Linked DNA regions of Homo sapiens. The protein of the gene in region 3 interacts with the protein of the main gene of each other region in a biochemical or structural test. Each region holds a gene or a part of one and is shown on either strand. Other genes may lie near its edges.

Evidence for each region.
Region 1: the proteins of ABL1 (region 3) and RAD51 form a complex in vitro, tested with the Homo sapiens proteins (2 studies listed by BioGRID).
Region 2: the proteins of ABL1 (region 3) and SORBS2 form a complex in vitro, tested with the Homo sapiens proteins (one study listed by BioGRID).
Region 4: the proteins of ABL1 (region 3) and LRRK1 form a complex in vitro, tested with the Homo sapiens proteins (2 studies listed by BioGRID and IntAct, with this or other methods).

The regions. Positions count from the first base shown.
Region 1 is NC_000015.10:40,697,877-40,705,829, reverse strand, and holds part of RAD51 (DNA repair protein RAD51 homolog 1), read right to left. Parts: intron 7,074-7,953; coding exon of another isoform or gene 7,072-7,073; coding exon 6,985-7,071; intron 4,767-6,984; coding exon 4,629-4,766; intron 4,025-4,628; coding exon of another isoform or gene 3,904-4,024; intron 1-3,903.
Region 2 is NC_000004.12:185,801,897-185,809,849, forward strand, and holds part of SORBS2 (sorbin and SH3 domain-containing protein 2), read right to left. Parts: intron 1-7,953. UniProt on the Homo sapiens protein: Adapter protein that plays a role in the assembling of signaling complexes, being a link between ABL kinases and actin cytoskeleton. Can form complex with ABL1 and CBL, thus promoting ubiquitination and degradation of ABL1.
Region 3 is NC_000009.12:130,880,061-130,888,013, reverse strand, and holds the end of ABL1 (tyrosine-protein kinase ABL1), read right to left. Parts: intron 7,947-7,953; coding exon 7,857-7,946; intron 7,515-7,856; coding exon 7,350-7,514; intron 4,046-7,349; coding exon 2,331-4,045; 3' UTR 339-2,330; downstream 1-338. UniProt on the Homo sapiens protein: Non-receptor tyrosine-protein kinase that plays a role in many key processes linked to cell growth and survival such as cytoskeleton remodeling in response to extracellular stimuli, cell motility and adhesion, receptor endocytosis, autophagy, DNA damage response and apoptosis.
Region 4 is NC_000015.10:101,062,090-101,070,042, forward strand, and holds part of LRRK1 (leucine-rich repeat serine/threonine-protein kinase 1), read left to right. Parts: intron 1-484; coding exon 485-601; intron 602-1,312; exon of another isoform or gene 1,313-3,262; coding exon 3,263-4,116; intron 4,117-4,550; coding exon 4,551-4,652; intron 4,653-6,581; coding exon 6,582-6,759; 3' UTR 6,760-7,953.

The DNA.
Region 1 (7,953 bases), on a different chromosome or scaffold from region 3:
TCGAGACCATCCTGGCTAACATGGTGAAACCCCATCTCTACTAAAAAAATACAAAAAATTAGTCGGGCGTGGTGGCGGGTGCCTGAAGTCCCAGCTACTTGGTAGGCTGAGGCAGGAGAAAGGCGTGAACCCGGGAGGCGGAGCTTGCAGTGAGCCGAGATCGCGCCACTGTACTCCAGCCTGGGGGACAGAGCGAGACTCTGTCTCAAAAAACAAAACAAAACAAAACAAAAAACTATTAGAGATCCGTACATATGTGTTTTGCCCAATTTATGACAAAAATGACAATACAGTACACCTTCATTTCCTGCTCCATCAACCGCAGACTGTATCCCTTAACTTCCTACTTTGTAAAAATGAGGACATTTGCCCTTCAATCTTTTCTCTCTCCATGGCTACTTCCCCACCTCTATCAGCTGTACCTTTTCTTTCATATTGTCTGGCTGAGAACATTCACATTCTATTTTGTAATTACAGATAAGTGTTCTGTAATAGCACTATGGGTTGATTCTAAAATTGAAAAGTAAGTGCATTCACAAATATGCAAAAATAAAGCAACACACTCCTAAATAAGCAACAAGTCAAAGAAGAAATGACAAGGGAAATCAGAAAATGTTTTTGCAATGAATGAAAACGAAGATATACCAAAACGTATGGGCTCCAAGAAAAGCAGTGCTTAGAGAGAAATTCATAGCTATAAACAGCTATATTAGAAAAGAAGGCTGGGTGTGGTGAATCACACCTGTAATCCCAGCACTTTGGGAGGCTGAGGTGGGAGGACTGCTGGAAGCCAGGAGTTTGAGACCAGCCTGAGTAACAAAGCAGCACCCTGGCTCTAAAAATGTTTTAAAATTAGCAGGGTGGCTGGGTGTGGTGGCTCACCTCTGTAATCTCAGAACTTTGGGAGGCTGAGGTGGGCAGATCACAAGGTCAGGAGTTCAAGACCAGCCTGACCAACATGGTGAAACTTCCTCTCTACTAAAAATACAAAAATTAGCCGGGCGTGGTGGCACGCGCCTGTAGTCCCAGCTACTCGGGAGGCTGAGGTGGAAGAATCACTTGAATCTGGGAGGCGGAGGTTGCAGTGAGCTGAATTTGCACCACTGCACTCCAGCCTGAGAGACACAGCGAGATTCCATCTCAAAAAAAAAAAAAAAAATTAGTAGGGCATGGCTGGGCATGGTGGCTCATGCCTGAATCCCAGCACTTTGGTAGGGTGAGGTGGGCAGATCACGAAGTCAGGAGTTCAAGACCAGCCTGCCCAATATGGTGAAACCCCATTTCTACTAAAAATACAAAAAATAGCTGGGCGTGGTGGCGTGCGCCTGTAGTCCCAACTACTCAGGAGGCTGAAACAGGAGAACTGCTTGAACCCGGGCGGCGGAGGTTGCAGTGAGCCGAGATCACACCACCGCACTCCAGCCTGGGCAAGAGAGTGAGACTGCATCAGAAAAAAAAAAAAAAAAGGCCTGGCGCGGTGGCTCACGACTGTAATCCCAGCACTTTGGGAGGCTGAGGCAGGCAGATCATGAGGTCAGGAGATCAAGACCATCCTGGCTAACACGGTGAAACCCTGTCTCTACTAAAAATTAGCTGGGCATGGCGGCACGTGCCTGTAATCCCAGCCACTCAGGAGGCTGAGGCAGGAGAATCGCTTGAACCCAAGAGGCAGAGGTTGCAGTGAGCAGAGATCACGCCACTGCACTCCAGCCTGGGCACAGAGGGAGACTCCGTCTCAAAAATAAAATAAAATAAAATAAATAGCAGGGCATGGTGGGGCGTGCCTGTGGTCCTAGTTACCTGGGAGGCTGAGGCAGAAGGTTTGTTTGAGCCAGGAGTTGGAGGCTGCAGTGAGCTATGATCACACCACTGCACTCCAACGTAAGTGACAGAACAAGACTCTGCCTCTAAAAATAAAAAAGATAAATCATAACCTAACCTTCCAAAGAAAAGCAAACAAAACAAAGCAAGCAGAAAGATGGAAATAATACAGGTTAGGGTAGAAACTATTAAGTAGAGGGCAGAATAATAGAGAAAAATCAATGAAACCAAAAGCTGGTTCTTTGAAAATATCAACAAAATTGACAAACTTTTAGCTGCATTGCCCGAGAAAAAAAGAGAAAAGACTCAAATTACTAAAATCAAGAATGAAAGAGGGGACATTACTACTGACTTTATGTAAATAAAAAGTAGTATAAGGAAACCCTGTGAGCATCTCTATGTCAACAAGTTAGGTAACTTAGATGAAATAAGCAAATTCTTAGAAAGATAAACTACCAAAACTCACTCAAGAAGAAAATCTAAATAGACCCATAGAAAGTAAAAAGATTAAACTTTCATAATGTTTAAATTTCCCATGAAGAAAAAAAATCAACAAATAGCTGAAAAATCAATGAAAGTTTATTCTCTAAACTTTTCTATATACTTAATATTTCATTTAAAAATTCATTGCACGGCCAGGTGCAGTGGCTCACGCCTGTAATCCCAGCACTTTGGGATACTGAGATGGGCGGATTACCTGAGGCCAGGATTTTGAGACCAGCCTGGCCAATTCATATACTCACTGTCATTTCAGTGCAACAAACATGTACTAGACACTTACTTCGTATGAAACATAGTCCCAGGGACTCTGAAGGATATGGAGAAAAAGAAGAGCTGATTCCTGCCTCCACAGAGCTTATAACTTAATCAGAAAGATAAACTATACAAAATAACTATAGTACAAGTAGATGTGATGGGTAATATGAGAAGTACTAACAAGCCATGGGAGCTCAAGGAATATAGACTACTTCCTTTGGTGAAAAACAGGAGAATGTATTAGCAAAGACAAAACTGGTAGAAATGGTCAGGCTAGTGGCATGTGCCTATAGTCCCAGCTACTCAGCAGGCTGAGAATTCCTTGAGCCCAGGAGTTTGAAGCTGAAGCTGCAGTGAGCTTTGATCATGCCACTGCACTCCAGCCTGGGCAACAGAGTGAGACTTTTCTTTTTTTTCTTTAAAAAAAAAAAAAAAAGGTGGGCACAGTGGCTAGTGCCTGTAATTTCAGCACTTTGGGAGGCTGAGGTGGGCAGATTGCTTGAGGCCAGGAGTTTGAGACCAGCCTGGGCAACATGGTGAAACCCCGTCTCAACTGAAAATACAAAAATTAGCCACGTGTGGTGGTGGGAGCCTGTAATCCCAGCTACTTGGGAGGCTGAGGCACGACAATCACTTGAACCCGGAAGGCAGAGGTTGCAGTGAGCAGAGCCAAAATTGCACCATTGTGCTCCAGCCTGGGTGACACAGCGACACTCTGCCTCAAAAAAAAACAGAAAACAAACAATACAATCATAATCTTTACTGGCCAGAAACAAAGAACATAAAATATTGAAAAGTAAAGACACGTAAGTCTATACCATATTGCATCTCAAATCATGTATTCTAGGTTTGCATTGTTGTGTTCATAGAAACAGAGAAGTGACTTGATTTCTGAAACCAAGATCTCGCAAGGCAAAAAGAAAAGATCCTGTCAGCATTTGTTCATTCACAAAAACTGATACCCAAAAAGCGAAAACAGAAAGACTTTAGGGACCCCTACTGGCTTAGTCAATATGACAATCTTTTAACAAAAATACTGTTAGGGACTCAGAACCCTTATTTCCAATTAAGCAACCACTTCAGCAAATATTCATTTGAGTAATCCAATAAATTTATCTAACGCTAACAGTAATCGATACGTGAAAATACAATTTTATAAATAAATATTTGCGGTGGGGCGCGGTGGCTCACACCTGTAATCCCAGCACTTTAGGAGGCTGAGGTGGGCAGATCACAAGGTCAGGAGATCGAGACCATCCTGGCCAACGTGGTGAAACCCTGTCTCTAATAAAAATACAAAAATTAGCTGGGTGTGGTGGCACATACCTGTAGTCCCAACTACTCGGGAGGCTGAGGCAGGAGAATCACTTGAACCTGAGAGGCGGAGGGTGCAGTAGACCAAGATCACGCTATTGCACTCCAGCCTGGCAACAGAGCGAGACTCCGTCTCAAAAAAAAAAAAAAAAAAAAAAAAAATCTGCTTTATACTACATAAAACTTCAAGGGTAAAGGCAATAAAACTGTGTAACTATATAAACACTGAAGAAATAGGTTCATAAAACAAAATGTAACCATGGGGAAGTATGTATGTTAAAGAACTATATGAAGCTAGAAAAATAAATAGGCCAGGCACAGTAGCTCACACCTATAATCCAGCACTTTGGGAGGCTGAGGTAGGTGAATCGCCTGAGCTCAGGAGTTCGAGACTACCCCGGCATGGTGGCATGTGCCTGTAGTGTAGTCCCAGCTACTTGGGAGGCTGAGGTGAGAGGATCGCTTGAGCTTGGGAGGTGAAGGTTGCAGTGAGCTGAGATGGCACCACTGCACTCCACCCTGTGTGACAGAGCGAGAACCCGTCTCCAAAAAAAAAAAAAAAGAAAGAAAAAAAAAAGAAAAGAAAAGAAAAGAAGAAAAGAAACAGGTAACAGTCACCCCTGGAAAGGATAATGAGATGACCGAAGAATAAGAGATAGAAGGAAGAAGTCTTTCACTACATTCCCTTTTGTACTATTCCCACTAATGCCTCCCTAGGTTAAGTAAGCAGTACTTACCAGAATTTTATCAGCTTTGGCTTCACTAATTCCCTTAATATTTATTAGCTCCTTCTTTGGCGCATAGGCAACAGCCTCCACAGTATGGAATCCAGCTTCTTCCAATTTCTTCACATCGTTGGCATTTATGCCACACTGCTGCAAATGAAGAAAACCATGGATAAATTTAAGCTTTAGTTCTCTAATCTAACACAGATGTTATGTGTCCTACATACTTCACAGAGGTGCTTGAAGACTTGTAATACAACTGTCCCTTGAAATCCTTGGGGGGGCGGGGGGAGATGGGAAGTTGGTTCCAGGACCCCCAGCAGATAACAAAATCCAACAATGCTCAAGTCCCTTATATAAAATGGCGTATTACCTGCATATAACCTATGTACATCCTCCTGTATACTTTTTTTTGATATGTAGTTGATTGAATTTTTGATACGTAGTTTGTTGAATTTGCTGATACAGAATCCGGAGATACAGAGAGCCTACTGTTATTATATGCAAAAGCTGAAAAATGAGCCCTATATATGAGGTACTTAATAACAAATTAACAACCTTTTCATTATCAAAATCAATAATTTTAAACTAGCACTAAGCCATGTACATTAAAAAGAACTCCTATTAGCAATTGGAATTAAAAAGTAACTCCCAACCTTTTTTTGTGACCCTAAATGATCTCTGAGACCTTGGGCCCTACAAGACCACTTTAAGACAGTGTTGCTCAACACTTTCCACATCAAGCACACATAAAAAACTGTATTTTTACACTATGGTAGGGTAAATAGATAAGGCTGCTCAGAATATAAAGAGCACTATCTTGGCCTGTCAATACTTTTTGTTGAACAATGACCAGAAAGCTCTGCTCTAACAACTGACATTAACAGTGAGGAAAACTACTTTTTGTCAGGGACTTTTATACCTCTTCTCAAAACAAACCACCCAAAGACACCTCTTTCTTCCTATATTCAAGTCAGCTTTGGTTTCATTAGCCACCAAAACCATGACTTCTGGGAAAACATGAGTTAGTAGGTGAATGTGGGTGCATTCAGGGGTTGGGAGAATTTAGAAGAGGGGAGAGATTAGTTTGCCAACATAAGCCATGTCTGCTATTAATATTTAAGCAATATGCATGTTTGAGTATAAGGATGCTCATGGCACCAGAAGTTATGACTCTGAACTTTCAAATGTTTATCACAAATCCATTTAAGTAACTTCTAGAGTCTTTTTTTTTTATTAGCCTTTTGCACTCCTAACTTCTAGAGTCTTGAAGATTAGTCAGAGATGGGAAATATGAAAAAAAGAGACAGAAGAATCAAGTCTTTCTCTGCTTTCCTCCTACTTAGCCCAAATCAGCTGCACTCACAGGGCAGTCTCTATACAATGGGCAGAAATAGTGTAAGGCCTCAGCTCTGGTGCTTAATGTTCTTGTGCAGAATCCTGAATTGGAGCTTGTCTCTTATACCATAACACCACCACACCCTTCTCTCTGCCAATGACAGCTGACAGCACAAATCTAGGTTAATGGAGAGAAGGTGCTTCCCTGTCTTCCTTGCATAACTGGTCCAGGCCGCTATAATTCCCAGAACAGCACTTTCATACTTAGTGCAAATAGCACAGGATGCTTTGGCCAGGCATGGTGGCTCATGCCTGTAATCCTAGCAGTTTGGGACGCCAAGGCAGGTGGACTGCTTGAGGCCAGGAGTTCAAGATCAACATGGTCAACACAGTTAAGACCCATTTCTTAAAAAACAAACAAAAAAACAGCACAGGCTGGGCGCAGTGGCCCATGCCTGTAATCCCAGCACTTTGGGAGGCCAAAGAGGGTGGATCACCTGAGGTCAGGAGTTCGAGACTAGCCTGACCAACATGGAGAAACCCTGTCTCTACTAAAAATATAAAATTAGCTGGGTGTGGTGGCTCATGCCTGTAATTCCAGCTACTTGGGAGGCTGAGGCAGGAGAATCGCTTGAACCTGGGACGCAGAGGTTGCGGTGAGCCGAGATCACGCCATTGCACTCCAGCCTGGGCAACAAGAGCGAAACTCCATCAAAAACAAACAAACAAACAAACAAAAACAGCACAGAGATTCCACCATGGGATCCTAGGCCTTAGTTTCTGACAGTCCAACTCTCAGAAATAAAAATGATAAAGTAGGAAGAGAATTGTTGACAAAGGAAGAGGCCCTGCCAGACATATTTAGCAATGATCTGCAGCCTTTCCACAGGATTATTGACAACACTTCTGAAAAGTCTAATTTGGGTCTTGACCTTGGTAGTAAACCTATATTTTATGTAAAGGTTGTAATACCTTCCACTAGGTAGAAGAATCTAGTATATAATTCCAAAATTAGCAACTAACCACATACCTCTAACCGTGAAATGGGTTGTGGGCCAAAGCTTTCTTCTTCCACTGAAGTATCTGCATTTGCTTCAAGCTGCATCTGCATTGCCATTACTGAAAAATACAAATGCTTATCAGTATAAACACTAGAGAAATAAGGTGCATCTCTCTCCCCATCTTCTATCTAGCTAGTCGTATCAAAAAGACTTTAGGAAAAGCCAAGGCCATTCTCTTATTGTGCCTCTCTGTTCTCCTGCTTTATATTCCTTCAGTGTAGGGGCCAAGTTTTACTTATTTTTATATACCCCATTATACATTATAAATGTGTTTGCAGACAAATACTGCATGATCTCACTCATATGTAGAATCTAAAAAAGTTGATCTTGGCGGGGCGCGGTGGCTCATGCCTGTGATCCCAGCACTTTGGGAGGCCGAGGCGGGCAGATCACCAGGTCAGGAGATCAAGACCATCCCGGCCAACATGCGAAACCCCGTCCCTACTAAAAATACAAATATTAGCAGGGTGTGGTGGCACACGCCTGTAGTCCCAGCTACTCGGGAGGCTGAGGCAGGTAAATGGCTTCAACCCGGAAGACAGAGATCGCAGTGAGCCGAGATCGTGCCACTGTACTCCAGCCTCATGACAGAGTGAGACTGTGTCTCAAAAAAAAAAACAAAAAAAAAAAAGTTCATCTCATACAAGGAACAAATAGAACAGTGGTAACCAGAGACTGAGGAGAATGCAGCTGTTGCAGGGGGCGGCAGGAAGGAGAGAGGTTGGTCAACAGGCACAAAGTTTCAGTTAGATAGGAGGAATAAGTTCTAGGGTTCTATTTCACAGTAGGGTGACTACAGTAAACACTAATGTAATGTATACTTCAAAATAGCCAGAAGCGAGTATTTTGAATGTTCTCATCACAAAGAGAAATGACAAGTGTTTAAGTGAACTGATGGATATGCTGATTACCCTGATTTGATCATTCATTATACAATG
Region 2 (7,953 bases), on a different chromosome or scaffold from region 3:
TACCTCCCAGGGCTGTTGAGCCAGACTCAACAATTTACATGAAAGCACTGAGGGGGTGCCAAATACATGTGAGTGGTATAAAACAATTCTTGATGCTACAAAGCTTGCTTTTCCACACTATTGTCAAAATCCCACCTTGTTCGAGCCCCAATTAAAATACCATTTTCTCTAATCCATCTTTCCCGATCCTCTAACAAACTTCAATTCTCTGAGCAATTTATTATCATCTTCTGGAACTCCATTGCTTAAGACGATCAAAGAGTTTCTTTATTGTATAAGTTACTTCTGCGCATGTCTTTTGAAGGAATAAATAAATGCATTGATTATATCTGCCTTATAGCACTCCATCACCTTCTATCTTAAATTACAGTAACTAGCGTTCCTGTCTTCCTGCACTAAATTGTAAGCTCTTTCAATGGCTTCCTGGCTTATTCTCTCATCTTTTCCTCCGGTCCTTGATGGATGTATAATAAATGAATGAGTAAATTATATGAAAATGCAAGTATGATTTTTTTAATATACAGTTACAACTTCGACATCCACAGTTGGGTCTGACCACTTGTTAAGTTGTACCCAGAACTTAGGTCTTTCTCGCTCTCCACGTTCCCTATCAAGGCCATCTTTTCAATACCAAACAAATTAGAAAGAATACAATCAGCTAACTTACACTAACATACTAACAAATGGGACAACAGTCTTCAAGGTCTGGAAGAGGAGAGCAGAGAACTCATCATTGCCTGCTCAAGCCCATCTACCAGGAGGGGAAACTCCAGATACTGTGGGCCACTTGGCACTTAGGAACTCATGGTACTGATCTGTATATTGGGCAGATATAGTTTTTTGGTGATAGTCTTAAAAATCATGTGTCACCTGTCATGACACTTGCCAGATGAAATTCTGATTTTATTTCCCAAGAGAATGCACTGACAAATTAATAATCTGACCTTTAAACGGGTGATATTTCTCCATGTCAATCAACAAGAGGCCATTCTGTTTTGTTGACCAGATAAAATACTCTTTCACTCTCTGAGGGGTTAGCGAGAGTGCATGCAGATTTCTCCAATGCTTTGCTTTTGGTTGGAAGCAGAAACATTTAAATTTCAAGGCAACACTTTTCCTAATTCCTACTGAACTCAAAAGCTCTAGTGGTTCAGTGATCCCATTGGTAACAAATACTTAGAGGGCCAGAGTCCTTCTGGGTCCTATCCTTACGCTCCTGTTCTCTCCTCCTCTCAGGCCTTTTCTGCACCATGCAAACCCAGCACCTCTTCTCACAGGCTGGGCTAAAGGCAGAATGCAATACCATGACTGAGGAGCCTGGGAATGAGGCAATTCATTAACAGAACATTCCCCAGGAAACATAATTTTCTGATCATAATCTCTTTGTTCCTGACAGTTGCAAAATTAAATACCAGAGCCAAAAAAAAGTGAGGCACCGTTTTAAGGGTATGTTTTCCTAATTCGATCTTCAAAGGAAGCACAAGCTTAGGGTTCGAAATCATTATGATGTAATATTATGCCACATAATAATACATAGATCCAATCATTTTACCAGATAACCGTCAATATAAAGCACTGACAGGACATTTGGGACTTCGGGTCAACAGGAAGGTGGTTTTTCAAACTAAACTATATTATTTATGGCTTTGATTGTCATTTACTTTTACAACATAAGGGTGATGGTAATTCTGCTCTTCTGCCAATAAATCTAAAAATTAATTGAAAATGTAGTCAAAATCCTTGGCACACTTTAGAAGGAAGATTTTTTTAATTAAAAAAGCCATATTAATCATTATATAAATGAGTTATATTAGTCCTGTAAAATTAAATCTATGGTGGAAAGGAAGTCAGTGAGTGATATAATCGGATTTCAGAACACATATCATATAAAAAGTTATGTTTCTAAATAAAGTGAGTGTGAAAGAATTCAGGATATATTATCAGTCATCTGAGTTACTGCCCTAAGACAGCCCTTCTCCCAAAACAGATATGGTTTCTCTGACAAAGAAGATAAGTGTGCCTTCTCATATTTTTATTATTTTCTTAACTGTCAGACATAACTCATATGTAGTTAAGTTGCTCAGAAGGTTAAATTCGGAGGAAAAATTCTACAAGTGGTTTAAATGAGCCAAATCATTTTTGGTTGCGTCATGTTTCCTCCGTTGAAAAAGTCTCGATGACTTAAAAAGGATTGCTTTGATACTTAGCTTAGTGTTTTACCCAAAAAGCATACTGACCAAAAACAAACAAACAAAAAACCCATAACAAAACAAACATTTAAAGATATGTAGACCAGATCAGTTTTCTCCTGATGAAAGTCACATGGAACCACACGCAGGTTACCTTGCTTTCAGCAGGTCCCTTTCCTTGGGTGTGAATTTTATTTGTTACAATAACCGACTTGGCCTAGTTACTCAGCCATCCTTCGTTCACTCTTGGTAGTGGACATGGCAAGATGGTGGGTAAAAACACGTAAACAAGACTGCTCTCTCGTGGAGGTCACTTTCACATGGAAAGACTGGACACGTCAAAACACTTCATTAACATGATATAAAAATAATACAACATGTAAAGTGGTATCGGCGCATCTAAGACAAAGCGATTCAATGTTAAATCCCTCTTTGGGAAATAATTTAAGATTGCAGAAAATGTTTCTGAGAAATTCCAATGTAAACGTCCTTAAAAGTCCCTACTTTTTAGTATTTGGTATTATACTTATAGATTTTGTGATTTTCCAGATTTTTCATTAAAAGTTAATATGCATAAAACTCTTGGGATGGTAGCAAGTACAGAGTGAAATCTATATAAATTATTATTATTATCAATATCTTTTGGAGTGAACAAATTGAACATTTTTTGAATAATCTTTTGCGTAGTTGACTGAATACTAGTTAATAGGTTTCTATTGTTTTCTTGAGTTAAATCAGAAGCAGATATTTTGATTGACTGTGTAAGGTCTTGCAGCTTCTATGGTTTTTTTTAACTTGAAAAGGTCTTCCCAGACTGATACCTCTTTCTGTCTTGAACTCTCTGTTCAACTATATTCTAAAGCCTTAAAATGAAGATCTTCAATTTTATAACTCTGGATTTAAACTTTTCTTTCTTATTCTTTTTTATTTTACAAAAGAAAATTTTAACTCTTTAGGTTGATTATATTTCTTGATGAATGTGACTGTACCAAGAGGCTTTAAAAAAATTGAGATTAGAAATCAGTTTTTCTTATCTTCTGAATTATTCACCATATGATGTGTTGCATTTGAGCTTTATCTATGCTTCTGGTAATATTTCTGTCTTATATAATTGTTAAAGTATAATGCTTCTCACCAGGAAGACTATATATATATATATGTTTAATAATAGCCTTTTTAAATTTTCATGTGTTTTTTCTTCTCCTTTGTTTTCTGATTTTTAAAAAATCAGAAAAATGTCTGAATTGTCACTTTATCTGTAGATTCAAAGAGCACTTTCTAATCATGTGTTGGCATTAGCACAACACCGGGGAAGATCTGATTGCTGTAAGCCGTTCATTCATTCAGCAAATACTGACTGAATATGCAGTATGTTGACCTGTTTGCTGAGGGCCTCTCTGTTCCGGCTGCCATTCTAAAGCGAGTCAAGTTTTCCCTGTAACTTTTATTCTGCAGAAGTAACCTGTACCTTTTTCCATTCTCTTGCCATTCACCACTCTCCTGACCTCCCTTTGCGTAAACTGGTTTAAGCCTGGCGCTCTAGGTCCATCCAACAACACCGGTCTATTCACACTGTAGCAGAGCAACCAAGCAGTTATACAATTTTCATCTTAACTACTAGTAATACTATGCTATAAAAATTTTGAAACCTAGATTTTGAGATATTGAGCAAACTAAAATATGTAGTATTTACTATAGTGCAAGAATACGTCTGACGGGTTAAATGCACGCGTTTTGGAAAGTGCTCAAACCCTTCACCAGATGACACAGTTATAGCACAACAACAGCTGAGGTTATTGTTATCTAATCTCCTTTCCCTCGTTAACTTTAGCACAGAGAACTGAAATAATTGGGTGTGAAGGCATCTTGATAATCTACCAAAAAGGCTCATTTTTAAGCAGCCAAGCGTTGCTCTCTTAAACTTTTGTTGTTTAGTAGCATAAAGTGTAGGCAACCTGTATGAAGTATAAATATCTGGTATTAAAAAGACCCAGTGAGGCAGAAGTCGCTGACTCCTCTCAATAGGTGGAAGAGGATTCTCCATGCAGCCGAAGGCTTAATGAAGCACATTTCCACCAGCCAGGCTGCTGCCTCTGTGGTGTTACCTCTTCAGAGGACTCAGTGCCTCTGAGAAGCTGGCTGTCCTCAGCGAGAAGTAAGTACAGGGACTTCTGTTTAGAGGAGACTAGAATGAATATTTATACTAATAAATTTTCTCCAACATAGCCAAAATCTCATTTGAATATGTTTTTCTTTCTGTGCATTTAAAACACTTGCCATTCTTCATGGCATCCCATGCTTGTACTCTTAGAGGATCTTCACGAGTGGCACAGCTCTTGGCTAGAATCCTATTTTTTTTTTTTTTTTTTTTTTTTTTTTTTTTTTTTTTTGAGACGGAGTCTCGCTCTGTCGCCCAGGCTGGAGTGCAGTGGCGGGATCTCGGCTCACTGCAAGCTCCTCCTCCCGGGTTCACGCCATTCTCCTGCCTCAGCCTCCCGAGTAGCTGGGACTACAGGCGCCCGCCACTACGCCCGGCTAATTTTTTGTATTTTTTAGTAGAGACGGGGTTTCACCGTTTTAGCCGGGATGGTCTCGATCTCCTGACCTCGTGATCCGCCCGCCTCGGCCTCCCAAAGTGCTGGGATTACAGGCGTGAGCCACCGCGCCCGGCCTAGAATCCTGTTTTTGCTATAGTTTGTTGGACTCCTTGCGGCTAATCCTTGCAGCTATATTAGTCTCTGAGGGATGCTGAATTGAATAGAACATCAGAAGATTTGGAGCCTGACGGGTTTATGTTGCCCCTGTCCTCAAATTCAACTATTCCAGAAAAAATGTACTAGGACAAGGAACCTGAAAAGAAGAACTATTTCTAACAATGGATTGGATGAACTCTCCCATTCAAAGCAGAGGATATAATTCATTATAAGACTTGTAATTTACTTTAACCACTGGGAAAACATCTCAGAGGGAAGAGAGAAAAACTGAATTTCTGATTAAATTTAAAAAATCAAAAATTTAATAAGTAGGCAACCGTATAAATGAACAGAAAAAAACAAAATATCACCGAAACTTTCAGATAATGTTCTTTGTTAAAAATAAGTTTCCCTAAATTATAATATGAATATATAAAGAGAAATTAGAAAATATAATGAGAACATTACCAGGCCTTTTTGTTTTCTTTCTTTTTTATTGTGTTTTTGTTTTTTTGAGGTGGGAAAATCTTTGAAAGTAAGACCCTTGATTGGATTCAGGAAAGTGAAAGCTTTCTGAATTTTTGCTCAAATAATGCTTCTCTAAGGTACAGAATTTAATGCTGAATTTATGTCTACCTCACCTGTATAGGGAAGAGGAAACCACTGCTTTTTTGGCCAAAATTCCTACTTGGTAAACTAGTATATTTCCGTTTTGAAGACCAAGGTGCAGTGAAGTGTGGTGGAGTTCCATATGGATCTGTTATGCTGCAAACACCAAAGTAAAAACCCGTCTTTGCTGGTTCCCCGTCATTTATTCAGCAAATATCATCTTAATTGAACTTAAGCTGAAACGTGAGTTCTTATTTGCCAATACTCAGAACTCAACAGTTGCAGAAGTGTTTCCTTTTAACTGCATGTCCATGTCTTGAGTTTTTCAGAAATAATACAGAAAAACATATTTTGAAAACATATTTATCTGTATTTTTCCACGTGACAGTGGCAGTTTAGGATTTAACAGGCATATCCATAATTAAATTGTTAGTTTGAGGAACTTCCAGAAAATTATCTAATGCAATCATATATCACAAGTCTTCTTTATAAAATACAAGTGCAACTCATTTCATTATGCTATCCATGTAGTTAGACATAACTGAGACCTTTAAAAATATTATAAATGACTTAAAATAGAAAATGTTAGAAACAGTACAGGCATATTACAAAATCATGGTTTCTGAAATCTAATTACTATATGCAATTTAAAATAATTAAACATGATTAGTCTTTAAGATGAATAGAACCAATTCCAACTTTAGCTATTATTTAATTATAGCATGCTGTACATTAAAATCAGCTGGAAGATAGCCAAAATAAGCTTTAAAGGACAGCATGATAATTAAGAATTGCTATTTATCTTACTTTTATTAGAAAACTCAATGCTGGAATGAATGCAATAATGTCAAGAAATATGAATTTAAATAATTTCCTAAATATTTTACTTTCTAATCCCAAATATCAGGATATTTTAAACTTCCTCATCAATTCTACTTTATATACAAAAATTCATACAGTATTAATTAGAACTTTTGCTTTCAACACAGATATCTTAAAGACAAGGAATTATGTATTTATAACTTCTTAATAAAACTATGGGTACATTCTTATTTTTGATTGTGGCAGTTTTTTCATAAAAAGGCTACTGAAATCAGGCTTATTTAAAAAATACTAATAATGTTATCTAATATAGAACAGAGGGTAGGAAGTCTCTGTAAACAAACCTATATCTATATCAAGAGTGATTCTAAGAGAATATTCTCTCCCTTACCCAGGTACTCAAGTTGTAGGGTAACATAACTAGTGTAACGTAACTAGTGATTTCCAGTCACCTTTTAGGTTTACTTAGGAACATTAAAAGAAATGCTGCCATTGTAGACTTCATTTCAATTATTTAATCTCTTTCCAGTTCACGACCTTTACTTTCTTCTGGTTTCAGCAAGAAAAACAACTTCATAAGTGTCTTACATTATAATCGGCTACTAATCATCATCAACTCAACATTAGTTTTAAACAGTCTGATTCCATAACAAATTTGTAATAGGGATATTTTCTATACATTTTATAATAGCCATGGATAGAAAAATAGTATTATTTATATACTAAAACATTCAAGTTGTTTTGTTTAAAACATACATTGTAAAATTTTCCCTCGGGAAATTTGGATTTATTATAGGACAGTTGTAGCTTTTATGAAATTGGGATCCTGAAGCCATATTTTCAAATCAGAAAAATGAAAGCCTCATTGTTGTTTTTCAAATGTTTTAAGTTTCCTTGATAAAAGGCAGTATTAGGACTTCTATTTCTAGGTCAAGTCTATATTTACAGTAACTAATAGGAAAATATTGAAGTCTGAGGTTACCAGTACAATGTCTGAATGCAAAATTCTGGACACTGGACAAAGTACTTTAGAATCAGAGGCCAGCAAAGCTCTGGAAGGCTGTGAACAGGGACAAATGCAATATGGTTCAGCAGACAGAAAGTCAGAAGTAAGATTCAGATGTAGCCAAGCAGGGTGGGGGACAGTGAGGGGGGATGTCTAGCTGGACTTGAAGGGCGTATGAAAGCAGCTGTCCTTGCAGGGGAGATTTAAAGGAAATGACTCTTCAGGGGGCACTGCATTTGCAAAAAAAAAAAAAAAAAAAAAAAAAAATCTGATATAGTATGTTTTGGAAATTCCAAAATATTTGATATTGCCAGCAGAAGAGTTGGAAAGTGGCAGAAAATAAGGGTCTAAAAATAGCCATAAGCGAAAGTGCAAAGTCTTGAAGGATAGAGATTATGTCTCTGAACCTGGTTCTCAAAATTGTTGAATTATTAACTATGGAGATGCGCTGTACAGAATTGAACTTAAAATGGTCATCTGTGTATAGCATGTCATCTTAAAAGGTTACTAAAATAGGAAAGAACTTGCACAGGTATAAAGTGTGTGCCATTCCTCCCGTGGGCTAAGGGTCTTGTCTCACTTGGTGCCACTATCAATGCAACAGGCACAGCAGTCGGGTGTGCCCTGGATATTT
Region 3 (7,953 bases):
GTCGCTGCGACAGCCTGATACCGCCAGTCAGATGTGGCTTGTATGGTGGCACAGCCCACTCCCAGTGATGCCGGTGGGGCCAGGCTGCCAGCAGGTAAGCGCCAAGGGTACAGAAAGGGTCCGAGCATAGCAGGGCAAGTGCCTGAAAGATGGCTGTGGGCACCCAGGCCGCAGAGGCCCTGGGCAGCTGGGGGCAACCTGCCACCGTTCTGCTCTGTAAGACCTGATGCCGGGCCCCAGCCCCGTCGGGAAACCAGAACCCACTACATCCCGGCCCCGCCACCGCACAGGCTCAGAACAACAGGGCAGGATCACAGGCCGAAGCAATCTGCCAAGAATTCTAATGTAAACACTGATTTATTTAAAAAATACTACAGAGGACAGATTTGGATTCAAAAAAAACCACAGAGAATCATATACAGAAACAAAATGCACTGGACCCCGAGAAGCAGAGGGGGAGCCACCACAGGCCCCCGAGGGGGCAGGGCAGGACGCTATGCACACGCCACTTAGAAAAGAGCGTCTATAAAAGATGCATACCAAGAGATACGTGTAAAATATAGTGGCACATCACGTTAACAAAAGGAAGGGACCAGTACCTCATGGAGACAGGCAGTCGGGGGACCTGGGTGGGCGCTTTGCTCTGTCTTCAAGGCCGCTGTCGGTGACTAGTGCCTCCCTCCGGCTGCGTCACAGCCGTCGGGGGCAAAGAGGTGATGTGCTGTAAGAACCGCATAAAACGATCCAGAGGAAACCATTTCTATCAGAAAAATAAAGTACAAGTTTAGGTGATGAGCGTAAAGCTAGGGCCTGTGCGAGGCTGCTGGCACGAGGCGGTATGAAGGGGTGGGAAGGTGGCTTCTCCCGGCGTGAAGCCTCAGGGGCGGCCACCTGCCCACTGCTCTCGGAGTTAGCTGCTCTGTCAAGGTCCAGGAGACCCCGGGTCCCTGCCCAGAGTCACAGCCCCCGTATCTGGGCTCCGGCCTGGGGCAGCCTCGGGGAGAAGATGGCAGGCGTGCTCTGTGAAATACGTGAGGCTTTCAGGGGCTCCGTTTGTGGTTTTCCTAACCCTCCCTGATGACCCCCACAGAACATGAGGCTATGTCACTCACGGTAATTAAATAAGACATTCGCCCAGTTCAAGAGTGCAGCCAGGACCAGGACTGGCCAGGCCCTTTCCTCCCACCTGTGCGCAGGTGCCCAGTGGCAGCTCTATTCTCTCTCAGGGCGGCTACACAGAGGCAGGGCTTTGAAATGCTTCAAGAACTCAGAAAAGTGAAGGCTGTCTTGTTCCAAAGGAAAGGGCCTTGTAAGAATCTACTTTGTCTTAGAGGAGTGGGGGAGGGGAAGGGCCCTTTCAGGGCACCCAGATGTGTGAAAGGACGGTTCACTCTGGGCCCTTGCAGACCTGCCTGGGCCCAGTCTGGGGCTATTTGGCACCAGCTGTTCACCCCACTAGCCACTGCCTCCCTTGTCCCCTGCCTCCATTCTGCTGGGGGAGGGATGTCGGCAGTGACAGTGACCTGCCACCCTTGAGACTCAAGCTTTCTTGCCAGGATTCACAGTGCACGTCACAAGAGAGCAAGAGCTGGGCTCTGGGGATGTGGACAGATGGAAAGGACATGCCCCATGCCTCGATCCTTTTCAGCTCCCACCTGCCCAGGACCCAAAGGCTGGTTGGCTTTAGCACCCTGTTTTCCACCCAAATCAAGAGCTGTCCTGCACGTGAGGAAATGGCGAGTGCACCCCACCCCGGGCAGCAGCAGAGGGCAGAGTGACCAGCCGTGTGCATGCCCGTGCATGCCCTTCCCGAAATGCGGTTCTTGAAACATGTCTTCAGCACACGACGGGCAAGGCCAGGGAGTGCAGGCAGAGGGCCTGACACACAAGGCCTCAGTTCAGGCTTCCATTCTTGGAGAAGTGGAAGAAGGAGGCCCAGCCGGGGGAGGAGGGGCTCCAGAGAGAAAAAAATGAAAAAGACAGTCCACATCAGCCGTTCCCACCTGGCCTGGAGAGCTCAGTCTGGGGCACTAGGTGGGAGCGGGGCTGGCGGGTCCTGGCATGCCGACTGCAGTCCACGGAGCAGGAACTCCACAGATAAAATTCGAGGACAGAGACGGAGCGGGGAGGAGGAAGGTGCGGGAGGGCAGGCGGTGCAAACGTAGGTAGTAGAGCTGGACTCCACAGGGCCCTCAGCTCTGCCTGGCGCAGAGCTCCTGGGCCAAGGTGCTGACTCACTAGTCCCTTGTCAGCCACTGTCACGGGTATGGGCGAGCCCGCATGTGCTGCAGGCAGCTCCGACGGGCCTGACACCTGACCCCTGACTGCTGCTACCTCTGCACTATGTCACTGATTTCCTTCACCGAACTGAGGAGCTTGCTGAAGTCCTGAGTGGCCGCTGGACCACTGCCTGCTGTCGCCGGGCAGATCTGAAGCTCCCGGAGATTATTCTCCAGTTTGTTGATGGCCTCTCGGAAGGCAAACTTGTTCCTCATTTGCTGGATGGAATCCACATAGCTCACGCAGAACGTGTAGAGGTTTTTGCCGGCCTCCAGCACTGCGCTGTGGCTGGCCATCTGCTCGGAGTTCCTAGAGATGGCGAGGCACAGCGCCTCGGTGCTGTCCAGGACCACGCCCTTGGTGATGGCGCCGCTGGCGATCCGCTCTGGAGGCTGGCGGGTTTTCCGAAGAGACACTCGGGTTGATATGAGAGGGATGAAGGCGGTGGAAGACGGCTGGTCCCCTGCCAGGGCCGAGGATGCTGATGGCAACGTGGAGGGAACGGGGGCTGGGCTGATGGGGGTCCCCGACGGCTTGGCGGACTGTGGCTTTGGAGTGGCCGGGAGCACGGGCTTTTTGAGGCCCTCTCCCGGCTGGCTGGGCTTGGCAGCGTCACTGTTCACAGCATCAACCAGACTCGTGGCTTTTGTCTTTGCGCCCAGGACTGCCTCCCCGGCCGCCTCCTGGCTCGGGCTCTGCGAGGGCTTTCCTCCAGCCTTCCCTGCAGAGGCTGCTGGTGGGGGCGGCGGGGCAGGTTTGAGCCTGGACAATTTCCCCTTGTCCCTCCCTGGCGACTCAGAGGAGTGCTTGTGCCTCCTCACTCTGGACTCCTCGGCGGGGCCCTTGCTGGTGCCCCCTGGTGCACCTGAGCCTGCTTTGCTGGTGGGGGTCACTGGCTCAGCTGCAGCAGGGGTCCCTAAGGCACTGCCCTTTCCAGCTTCTTCCTTGTGGGGGAGGCCCGAGGCAGGGGCCACGGTGACCTGCCGCCGGAGGGGTTTTGGAGTCAGGTTGGGCGGGCTGGAGCCCGGGCTGGACTCCATGATGTCTTTGAAGACCTCATCAGCAGCTTCCTCATTCTTTTTCACCAGCCTGGGGGGAGGCGTTACTGTGCCTCGGGTCACCTGGTCAGACCTGTTCTCCCCTGCCCTCTTCCGAGGCAGAGCCGGCTTCTCACTTTTGTGCCCTCCAAATGTGGACGAGTCAAACTGTCTTCCCGTGGACTGCAAGTCCCGAGGCAGCGTGACTGACCTCCACTCCGTGTCCTTGGCCCCATGGGGAACGCAGGAGGCGGAGCAAGAGCGCAGGAAGCGCTTGCTGGAGCTGCCACCGCCCTCCTCCTCGCCGGTGGCTAGGCGGCTGCTGGTCAGCGTGCTGGACTTCTTCCACAGGTGGGGAGACCGGAAGCCTGAGCCCCCGGACTCCCGGAGGGCTCCATTGGGGACCCCAGCCCCATTGCTGGGCTTTGGGGACTTGGCTGGGTCAGCTGTGTCCAAGGGGGTGAAAGCCAGTGCCCCGTTGCTGATGTCTCGGCCCTCTTCCTCGCCGGCCCCTCTGCGCTCCGGCTGGCCGTCCATCTCCCGGAAGGAGCTGCTGCGTTTGGGAGGGGTTGGGGCTGTCTTCTTCTTCTTCTTGATCAAGGCGCTGAACAAGTTGGTCTTTTTGTCTTTGGGGAGAAGGCGCTCATCTTCATTCAGGCCGCCCTCCGGGGGACCTCGCTCTTTTCGAGGGAGCAATGGAGACACGGCAGGCTCATGGTCCAGAGGATCTGAAACGCAAGGGGAAGAGCTGACAACTCCAGACAACTCTAGAGGCTGACAGAGGAGAATCGCTTGAACCCGGGAGGCAGAGTGCCACTGCTGCACTCCAGCCCAGGAGACAGAGTGAGACTCCATCTCAAAACAAACAAACAAACAAACAAAAAAATTGTCAAAGGTCATCCCTTCTTATCTCCTGTGCATAATGGCCCATTGTCCCTTCCCCACTGTGGGACACAGCCCCTTATTCCCAGAGCTCCTCATAGGCCTCTCGGCTAGCTGGCTGGCAGGAGAGCCACAGGTTTTGACCCTTTGCTTGGCCTTGTCATCGTTTTTATACTCACTAGAGAGTGATGTGGGTGGGTGGGGGGCTGCTGCCTTCAAGTAAACCAGTGCAGGGATGAAGAGGCCAGGGCCGTCCAGCTTTTTGTTCCCATCTTCAGGGAAAGAGACCAAAGCGTGTGTGTGGTTTTTTTTTTTTTTTGAGTTGGAGTCTCGCTTGTTGCCTACGCTGGAGTGCAGTGGCACGATCTCAGCTCACTGCAACCTCCGCCTCCCAGGTTCAAATGGTTCTCTTGCCTCAGCCTCCCAAGTAGCTAGGACTATAGGCACCCGCTACCACGCCTGGCTAATTTTGTATTTTTAGTAGAGACGGGGTTTCACCATGTTGGTTAGGCTGGTCTCAAACTCCTGACCTCAGGTGATCCACCCGCCTTGGCCTCCCAAAGTGCTGGGATTACAGGCATGAGCCACTGCACCCGGCCCAAAGCCTTTCCTAATGACAATCCTAACAGCAATGATGGCTTTATTGAGAGAAGCGTGACACGTGCTTCACCTTTACAACCTCATCTGCATTCTCACAACAGTGCTGTAGCCCGGCTGGGACTTGCCTGGCCTCAGGGATGGTGGCATCAGAGCCGGTTATCAGATCCAGGCCTGTCTGAGCCCAGACGCTTGGGTGCTCCTCTGGGGAGCATGGGGTGGGGGCAGCCCCCAGCTTGTGCCACGGGAGCCTGACCTTGTGATTCGCTGACCTCGGCCTCCTAAAGTGCTGGGATTACAGGTGTGAGCCACCACGCCCGGCCAACAGTTTTTTAATGGGCACTCTTTAAATATGAATCATAGCTCATAAGAAATCTTTCTGGTAGCCAGGCGCGGTGGCTCAAGCCTGTCATCCCAGCACTTTGGGAGGCTGAGGTGGGCGGATCATGAGGTCAAGAGATAGAGACCATCCTGGCCAACATGATGAAACCCCGTCTCTACTAAAAAATGCAAAAATTAGCTGGGTGTGGTGGCACACGCCTGTAGTCCCAGCTACTCAGGAGGATGAGGCAGGAGAATCGCTTGAACCCAGGAGGTGGAGGTTGCAGTGAGCTGGTATCATGCCATTGCACTCCAGCCTGGCAACAGAGTGAGACTCCATCTCAAAAAAAAAAGGAAATCTTTTTGGTGTTGCCAAGCTCCTGCTAGTGAGTAACAGAATTCTCCCTCAGAGGTCAGCTTGCAAGAAGAGGTTTTCTGTTGGCACCTGTAACTCAACAGAGGTACCAGTATGCATTTATCAGAACCCAAGGCAGCACGCGGGACATCTGAATCAGGGAACACCAAAGCCCTCCCAAAACTTTAATCTAGTGGAAGGAGGCCAGGAGAGTGAAATTGCAATGAATTATGCACCACTCAGTTTCAGCACTGAGCAGTTAATTGACACCCTCGGCTCACCAAGAGATCACTATCAAAATACCCCTCAGATGAAACTGACGGGCGTAAATGAACATGACTGCTGATCACTGGGTTCTTAATAAGCACAGCGTTCCCAGAGGCCTCTCCTCCCTACTGCTCAGCCACCTGAAATCAGGAAAACCGATAAGAGGAGGAAGGGTGGAAGATTCTGGAGAGTCTATACGCCATAACCTCCAAGTAGGTGAGTGAGATGGCCCAGCGGGGCGGGAAGTATTGCAAATTTGGACTTATTTAGCATGCAAGCCTTTTAAATGTGCGTTTTGGTACATAACATACGCACTCTACTCCTACAGTAGTGGACATACGTACTTTATATACCATATATATGGGCTGCATGTTCTGTTTTTTTTTGTTTTTTTTTTACTAATGAGAGTACGTGATAAAACTCAGGTTTATAGATTCTGCTGTCAGTAAACATCCCACCATAAATCTTCAAGAAGTAGGGCTTTGTCCAGTCCCTTCACATGTACCCAGTCTGCAGTCCATTAGAATGGAGTCCACCATTGCCATCCCCAGGATCCTCTGTGAACCCAGATGCTTGGCCTACCCCCCACCTCCAATATGGGTTGGCTGAGTCCCCACCCAAATCTCACCTTGAATTGTAATAAGCCCCACGTGTCAACGGTGGGGTCAGGTGGAGATCAATGAATCATGGGGAGGTTTCTCCCACATTCTCGTGGTAGTGAATAAGTCTCACGAGATCTGATGGTTTTATAAAGCGGACTTCCCCTGCACAAGCTCTCTTGCCTGCCGCCAAGTAAGATGTGACCTTGCTCCTCATTCACCTTCAGCCATGATTGTGAGGCCTCCCCAGCCATGTGGAACTGTGAGTCAGTGAAACCTCTTTCCTTTATAAATTACCCAGTCTTGGGTATACCTTTATTAGCAGCATGAAAACAGACTAATACACCCCTCAATGCTTTTGTTCAGCTGGTCTGCAGCAGAACCTGGACTGCTGGTTCTGGGGGTCAACCATGAACATAGAACAGAGCCTGGCCTGTAGTAGGCACACTACATAAATGTTGGCCATTATTATTTTTGCTAGTGTCTTGAGACCCCCTCCTGAGCTGATCCCAACTCCCTTGCTCGCCTAGGCAATGGCACCAGAAAGATGCTCTTCCCAGAGACCACCAGGACACGGGTTCTGTCCATGTGCGTGTCCTGGTTCCACCTGGCTGCAGCGAGCTTCTCACATCAGTGCCTTCACCGTGAGCTGCTTGTCACGCAGCCTGGTGCTTACTATTGTTGAATCTGCTCTGAGACAGCAACCACAGATGCCGCGGGTAATAGGTGGGAGATGGGCTAGCTCCTTGGCGGGCTTCAGAAGCACCTCTGCCTACAGGACTGAACTCACTGCTGGAGCCTATGCTCCTCGGGGACTCTCAGAGGGAGGGGATAGGAGGCAGGTGGGGAGAGGAGAACCTTCCTCCTTCCGAAGCTGAACCATTGACAAAGGCCATGGCTGCCCTTCTGTGCGGGCTCCATTCACAGCTTCCCGTTGGCCTATGATGGCCTGAATGTAGCCTCTGGCAGGGAAGGGAAGAGCAGTGGGGTTGGGGGAAGCGGGGGACTTACCGCTCTCTCCCTGGCCCTTGGAGTGAGGCATCTCAGGCACGTCAGTGGTGTCTCTGTGCTCTGCAGCTCTCCTGGAGGTCCTCGTCTTGGTGGGCAGCTCTGGGGCCTGCAGCAAGGTACTCACAGCCCCACGGACGCCTTGTTTCCCCAGCTCCTTTTCCACTTCTAAGAATCATACAGGGACAGAAACAAAAATCCAGCAGCCATCAGTACTGGTGTTGGCTTGGTGTGGTGGTTCTCTTTCTTTGTAAGGTAACAGTGCTCATCTGCATACAACTAAAGAAAAGGCACGTGGATACCGGAGAAACAGCCCTTAGCATTTCTTAGAACTCTGCAGGGCTGCAGCAGACAAGAAAGCACAATACTCCACACCTCTGCCCAGCTTTCTGGTCTCAGGACAGGCTGGTCTGTGAACTTTCACCAGGAAGTGAACCGAATGACCCAGGCTGCAGTCCCACATGGCTGCCCTTTCACCCCACTGCAGGTACCCCGGGATGGGTACTTTACCGTCTGAGATACTGGATTCCTGGAACATTGTTTCAAAGGCTTGGTGGATTTCAGCAAAGGAGGGCCGGTCAGAGGGATTCCACTGCCAACCTGGACA
Region 4 (7,953 bases), on a different chromosome or scaffold from region 3:
CATTTCCTCCTAGAATGGGCGAGAGCAAGGGCTCTGCCTAAAGCGTGCTGTTGCATGGGAAGAACAGTGAACATTTCCTCCTAGAGTGAGGAAAGCAAGGGCTCTGCCTAAAGCATGCTGTCTCACATGGGAAGAACAGTGAGAAGACAGCATTGCGGCGTGAGTCCACTTTGCCAGTACCAGGTGCACACACAAATACCACAGAGAACTTCTGAGAGGCTGTGCCCCCAGATCCCAATGTTGGTTTTCTCTGGGGAATAGATGACGGGCTATTTTCTGTTTCCTCTTTAGACTAGTCTGTCTTTTTCAACGTTTCTACAAAGAGCAGAAATCCATAAACAACCCACCAGAACGTGTCAATCCATGTAACTTTCCAAGACCCATAGGGGATCCCCAAGTCCAAGTGCATCCTCATGGGAATGGCTTGGGAAATGCCAGACACTTTCCAGCCTGGGTCTCACAGTGGACCTGTCTGCCTCTGCAGGACCAGAAAATCTACATCTACACCCTCAAGGGCATGTGCCCCTTAAACACACCCCAACAGGCCTTGGATACTCCAGCTGTCGTCACCTGCTTCTTGGCCGTGCCTGTTATTAAAAAGGTGAGGTCGGGGCAAAGGCAGGTATGCAGGTCTCTGATGCACTTCCACGCCTAGGAGGCGTCTCCTAGCTATGTCAGGGTGGCGCCTGCAGAGCCACACCTAGGACCACCTGGCCTAGGACGTAGACTTAGAGACGGTGGGAGGAAAGATATCAGACCTGGTCCGTCATTAGTGCCTTCCGGTTTGCAAAAACCTAAGTCAAGTCCCCAGCCAGACTGCAGGCCGAATGAAAAACCCCCTTTCACATGCAAATGCCCTGACTCAGGTGGAAGGACTGTTGGTACAAATGGCACGGTGAGCAGTCATGCGTGTGCCCTTCCCCTATCCGGAGCCTCTTCCCCACCTGCCCAGGCCAGAGCCACCTCACAGCCACTTGATCACCAGGTCCTGGAGGTCCTGATCTCCCTCCCTCCATCTCTGCCTCCCGCCAAGTACTCGCCGTCTTACACCAGACGCAGTTTCTCTTTGTGCAGCATAGCCCTGCAGACTCAGCTCTTTAACCTCCTAGCCCTGGCCTTTCTAAATGAGACCCCAAGGGGCACTCTCCCCATTAAAGGCCCAGCCAGCTGTGCTGCACCTTGGGATTAGCCCCAGCCTCTATGAGGCTGGCCTCCAGTCCCTGCTGGGCCCGGCACCCTCCCCACAAAGCACCCCACTCTGTGCTGGGCCCTTGACATCCCAGCCTCCTCCAGGAACAGCCCCTCCACGCACCTCTTCCCAGACGGCCTCCGATTCAGTTCTCAAGACCCGGGGCCTTGTCCCCTCCTTTGAGAAGCTGCCCCTCAGTGGGGGGCAGCTCCCTGGCTTTTCCGGGCTCCTCCGCCCACAGGATTCAGGCACGGCTCAGCCAGCTCTGGTTTCATCCACCCTGAGGGGCCTGTCTGTGCATAGGCGCCCTCACTAAATGCACAAGAAGCCTTTACTGGTGTTGCTTTGTTAAAATGTGACTGTCATCATCCAATTCCAGTTTGCCCATCTACAAAACAGGTATAAGAAGAGACAGAAGGCCTAGCATACCCAAAGGTCTAGGCCGGTGTGCTTGGTAAATGAGTATTATTATTACTTCTGGATGGTCGCAAAATACATGAACTCTTCTCTTCACCCTTCTTCAGTTTCATTTAAAAAAAAAAAAAACAGGTATGAAATGAACCTTAGAGTCATTTATGACCATGGCCCCACAGCGAGGCTACGCAGCTTGGGACCAGGCCCGTACCAGAGCGCAGGAGAACACGACACAAAGTGTTATTGAGGCCACCGCTGGCGAGAGCCCCCAGCCAGGGCACCACCTCCTGCACGACCAGAGGGAATAAAGCCTGCTCTGTGCAGGGCCTCCTGGGCAGGGTGTCTGCCCCCTCCAAGGCCGCCAGCGCGAAGCCTGCATTCTTGCACGCGCACCCACGTTCACACCCAGCCGGGACGTGGCACTCACCGCCCTGGCCGGGGCCTGAGCCAGGACTGCAGATAGAGACCTGGAGCCTGTTTGCCTTGGCTGCCTTCTTTCCCTAAAGTCCTGGGGATGGATTTCGATACGCTTTCTTAGAGCATGTTGTCCTGGACAGTGAGCTACGGGTCTCCACTCCATTGCCCTGCACAGCCAGCCTCCTGAGCTCCCCCAGCTCCCCACAAGGAGGCTTTCTGCCCTGCCCCCTCACTGGCATGAGGCCCAGCTCCCTGCTCTGCCCTGACTCCAGCTTTGTTCTGCAGACCTCTTCCCACCCCCACCACAGCCGACGCGGTGTCTAGGCTGCGGAGCTGCACTCTGTTCCTGGCTCTGCCCTGGGAGGTGCCCCGGGGCGGTCTGGGGTGGGCCCAGCATTCAGCAAGGTCCCTGCAACTTTGGCCTCTGCCCGGTGACCTCTGGCGGGTGTAGAAGAGCTCATGCTTCATTGAGGGGGTGGGGGGCACCCTGAGGACCCTGTCAACGTCAGCTGAACCACAGGCATCTCGATAGATGTAAGCTGGGATGAGGGCTCAGCAGGCTGAGACAGGCCTCCAGAAGAGGGTTGAGTAGGAAGCGATTTCTTCCAGAATTAGTTCAGCAAACACATGTCATCCACTTGGAGCAGGAGCCAGGTGGAGTCACAGGGCCACCAAGATGAAGGAGACTGAGCCCTTCCCTGTGCCAGGCTAGTGCCACGGGGATGCTGGTGGGCTGGGAGCCCATCCTTATGGAACACTCTGCCTGGTGGGGGGGGTGGCAGGCAGGGGGCAGTGCACAGATGCTTGCCATGCCCCCACTGCTGTCATGTTAAGCAGCACCGAGAAAAGGGCGGGGGCACCAGGTCCTGCCTCTGAAGGAGGCCTTGGTGGCCTCAAGGAGAAGGCAGCTCCCTGCTGCTCGCCCTGCAAGAAGCTGGCAGAAGCAGAGGCAGCCCATGTGGTCCAGGTGACACGCAGCCTTACTTGGTGCCACAGGCCCTGCCTCTGGGTGGCACATTCCTTTCTTTGCTGCAGGGATGGTAGATATGGCTCTGCGGAGTCAGAGCTGCACTTCTTTAGGAGTAGCCCCGGCCTTTCTAAGAGATTTGCTGCCCTGAGGCGCACTGGTGGAAAGTGACTGCCCGCCTGGTGTGGGTGCAGATGAGTCCAGTGCCTACTCTGTGTCTCTCTTGGAATGTGTGAAATGGAAGGATGTGACACATCCCTGTCTCCTTCCTTCAGAATTCCTACCTGGTCTTAGCGGGCCTCGCCGATGGGCTTGTGGCTGTGTTTCCCGTGGTGCGGGGCACCCCAAAGGACAGCTGCTCCTACCTGTGCTCACACACAGCCAACAGGTCCAAGTTCAGCATCGCGGATGAAGACGCACGGCAGAACCCCTACCCAGTGAAGGCCATGGAGGTGGTCAACAGCGGCTCTGAGGTCTGGTACAGCAATGGGCCGGGCCTCCTTGTCATCGACTGTGCCTCCCTGGAGATCTGCAGGCGGCTGGAGCCCTACATGGCCCCCTCCATGGTTACGTCAGTCGTGTGCAGCTCTGAGGGCAGAGGGGAGGAGGTCGTCTGGTGCCTGGATGACAAGGCCAACTCCTTGGTGATGTACCACTCCACCACCTACCAGCTGTGTGCCCGGTACTTCTGCGGGGTCCCCAGCCCCCTCAGGGACATGTTTCCCGTGCGGCCCTTGGACACGGAACCCCCGGCAGCCAGCCACACGGCCAACCCAAAGGTGCCTGAGGGGGACTCCATCGCGGACGTGAGCATCATGTACAGTGAGGAGCTGGGCACGCAGATCCTGATCCACCAGGAATCACTCACTGACTACTGCTCCATGTCCTCCTACTCCTCATCCCCACCCCGCCAGGCTGCCAGGTCCCCCTCAAGCCTCCCCAGCTCCCCAGCAAGTTCTTCCAGTGTGCCTTTCTCCACCGACTGCGAGGACTCAGACATGCTACATACGCCCGGTGCTGCCTCCGACAGGTCTGAGCATGACCTGACCCCCATGGACGGGGAGACCTTCAGCCAGCACCTGCAGGCCGTGAAGATCCTCGCCGTCAGAGACCTCATTTGGGTCCCCAGGTACGTTTCCCGAGGTGAGGGCACCATCCAGGGCACGCCCACTGCTCCTGCTCTGGGGACAGAGCAAGGGGAAGCCCCCTGGCTTCCTTACAGGTCATGTGGGGAGGCAGGTGCTGTTCTTCCAAGAGGGTTGGTTTCCTCCATTGGGAATGGAAGCGATCGCTTTAGCAAATCTAAGAGTGGCCGCACAAAAGCTTATTGCCTGCCAGAGAGCTTAAGGTGCCACACAAGGAAAGCCACAGTCAACTGTGACTCAGTTTCCACTGAGAAAATTCTCCTCTGCTTTGAAGTCTGTCCCCTCCCCATAACTTAATCCCTTAGCAGAAACTGCATGTCTGTTGCCTCCCTCCCGCACCTTTCTGCACACCGGCTTCACTCCCCGGAGAGCACGGCTACCGACAAATCGCTTCCCCTTCTGGGTTTTGGTTGCTTAGGCGCGGTGGAGATGTTATCGTCATTGGCCTGGAGAAGGATTCTGGCGCCCAGCGGGGCCGAGTCATTGCCGTCTTAAAAGCCCGAGAGCTGACTCCGCATGGGTAAGACTGAGTGGCAGCTCCTTTAGGACCCAGGCAGCAGCATGAGCACAGAAGGCCCTGCAGCCAGGTCCTGCACAGTGGCTTTGCTGCCCTTCCATTCTCCCAAATAGCATAGCCACTAACGTGGCTGTAAGGCAAAGTGGAAACAAGATGGGGCCCCTCAGACAGCTCCTAGGGGCTCCGCACTGGCCATGGCTGCCTGTTTCTGGAGTACCCAGTGCACCTGTAGATCAAGTACCCTACCTAGTACCCTACCTAACGAATGTCTCCAGGGCCAGAGTTCAGCTGCAATCGACATGCAGATGCATCCAGGTCATTGATTCACTGTTCTTCCTGCCAAGCAGGAAACCCTACCCGAGGTGTCCACCAGCCCACACAGCACCCTATGGGGACAGATGACACAGGCACACCTTGTCATCTCCAAGCCTGGGGTCTCAGCTCCTGCCCTTCCTGGGCTGAGACATAGCTCAGTACCTGTCTGTGGGTGGGGACCCCCAGGATTATGCCAGTCTCCTCTGTGAAGGTATGCTGGGCAGGGTGGCCTGTCCGGGACATGGTCTACATGGTTGCAGTGATGTGAGGCTGGCGCCAGCTGCAGCTCCCCACAGTGTTTACACCCCGCACTTTGACTACCGAGCCCCACACGGTAAATCTCCCCTACGAAAAGTCCTCAGTTCAAATGTGTGTGTGTGTGTGTGTGTGTGTGTGTGTGTGTGTGTGTGTACTTTGGAGCTCTTCCATTTCACACTAGGCCTGTTTCCCTGCAGCATGAGTTATCCCCCATCCCTGGGCAAGTGGGTTTTTATTTCATCTGGAGCATAAGAGGGTGGAGAAACACCAGTCAGCTTGCTTCTCCCAAAGCAGGACAATGACAAGGACATCCTTGGCAGTCGCACTCCCTTGCCTGCCAGCTTTGAACTTTTGCAGTGAGTCCTGGGCCAGTGACCCTTACTCTGTAAGTGGTTCTGGAAGCAAGATCTGGATCTGCTCCTGAGCTCTGGCAGAGCCTGTGGGTAGAAGCCTTGAACTGATGGAGTTCCCAGCTTGCAGGTCGGGCTTCTGGAGGAAATGGGTGTGCAGCACCCAGGTTAGGACCTTGGCATACCTGCCATTAATGTCCTAACGTTTAGCTGTTGTTTTTCTCCTATTCATCCCTAAAGCCAGATTTTACCTCTTTCTCGCTAGAGGGAGGCTCCTCCCCTAAGGGGAGGTCCTGGCAAGGCCACGCGGAGTGAGAGGTCCCTGGACATCCCAGTTTGCAGGAGCACCTCAGTGCCACGCAGGCCGCACACACGGGACACAGAGGGAGGAAAGGCAATTAGTATGTGCTTGGGGTGGGGCACCACCAGGGCAGGGAGGCCACACTGTGGCCCAAAAGGAAACCTGTAGCACACACCCACCGATCCTGCAAAACTGTCCACAGTTTCAAAAAATGTATATAGTGATGACTTTGGGGCAGTAGGTTTTCCATTTAATATATGATCCTGTATTTCCTAAGCCTGTAGAAACAGAATGAGAGAAGAATCTTACTGAGCTTAGTGGCAAGGGAGTTGAGTTAAACTCGGTCATGAGCCATTCACAAGCAGAAATTTGGGTCAGTGGTGTTTTCTGGACGCTTTGGGAGCTGAGTCAAGGATGCATGATCTGATTGCCTCTGTGGCCTTCCAGGGAGTCTGACTCTTACAGACAAAGCCCATGGACGCGAACTCATGCCCACAGCCCGTCTTTGGACTTTATAAAGCCTAAGCCCACAGGCTGGCCACTGGGGAGAAGTGGTGCATCTCAGCACACCCCAGAGAGGGCTGGCAAGCAGACACACTCCCCTGCCCTTAGCCAGCTCCGCCTTCCTCAGAAGGCACAGGGGGAGGGTCCCAACCCCACCCGAGTGGGAACCCCTGTGAGTTTCCTCAGACCCCCTTCTCTCTGCAGGGTGCTGGTGGATGCTGCCGTGGTGGCAAAGGACACTGTTGTGTGCACCTTTGAAAATGAAAACACAGAGTGGTGCCTGGCCGTCTGGAGGGGCTGGGGCGCCAGGGAGTTCGACATTTTCTACCAGTCCTACGAGGAGCTGGGCCGGCTGGAGGCTTGCACTCGCAAGAGAAGGTAATTCCTGTGGAATGACTGTCACACATCAGAGCTGGCTGGCCCGGGGCTGCAGCCTGACCCCTCTGCCATCGGCCTCTAGTTCTCCAAGGACCTAGAAGACAGATGGAGTTCTCCCCTGAACTCCTTGCTGCTAAGAAGTGCTGAGAAGTTACTCGCCTGGCGGTGGCTCCAGGGTTCTCTGGTTCTCTGGAGCAGAGTTCTCTGAATACCCCATCCCCCAACTGCTGATTTTACAGCCCCAGGGAAGACAGTGGTATCAGGCTGGGAGCGGCCTCCTCTGGCCTCCCCCATCAGTTTGCAGGAGCAGGGGTGCAGGATCCTGTTCTGAGCTGGGTCAAACAAAGCAGGGCCGGGCCTTCCTGCCATCCCCAGGTCTCAGATGGAATTACACTAGAGGCCCTCCGCTGGGAAGCACTTGAGGTAGGGCAGGAGGGGGGCTGTGACCCCTGCCCTTTCCCCGCCAGAGACCTCAGGCTCTCAGCACATTCCACAGGCTCCTGAGTCCCCGAGGCCTGGGCCAGCTTGGGCAAGCCAAGATCAGATGTCTCTGTGTTCGGGAAGGTCTCCGTGTGGGAAAGCCCTTGGGGGATCCCGGGTGAGGAGTGTTGCCCCATCCAGAGAATGAATGAGTTCCTTTAAGTGCCACCGCCAGCAAGCCCAGAGGCACACAGTCCGAGTGCACCCGCTTAGCCTTTACATTCCTCTCCACCGACAAAAGGAAGGGGAAACTCAATCAGCAGGACTTCAGAAAGGGCCTTGTGTTTATAGCTTTGTCAAGTAAATTTGGACGCAGCTGGAGCACAGGCCCTGTTTGTTTGCACATAATAATCTTGTTTATCACTTTAAAAAATTCAGTAATATCTCAGCAGTCAGGCTTCTGGTTGTGAAATCACATTGTATGGGATTTATACCAAATTATGTATTTGCTAAACATTCACTGCACACGTGTACAGCGGAGTACGAAAAGGAACGTTGTCCACAGGGGATTTATGGATACAACAGCAAACATTTTATAAACTATGCACATGCATTACACACATGCACACACATATGCACACACATGTGCAAACATAGCCACTTTTTTGTCAAGAGTTACCCTTTGGGGCTCCTTAAACCAGAATGGGAGTTTGAAAGAGAGATCATACTCCAGCTGAAGTTTGTTGACCCTTTTCTAAAATTAAAAAGATCAAATTTA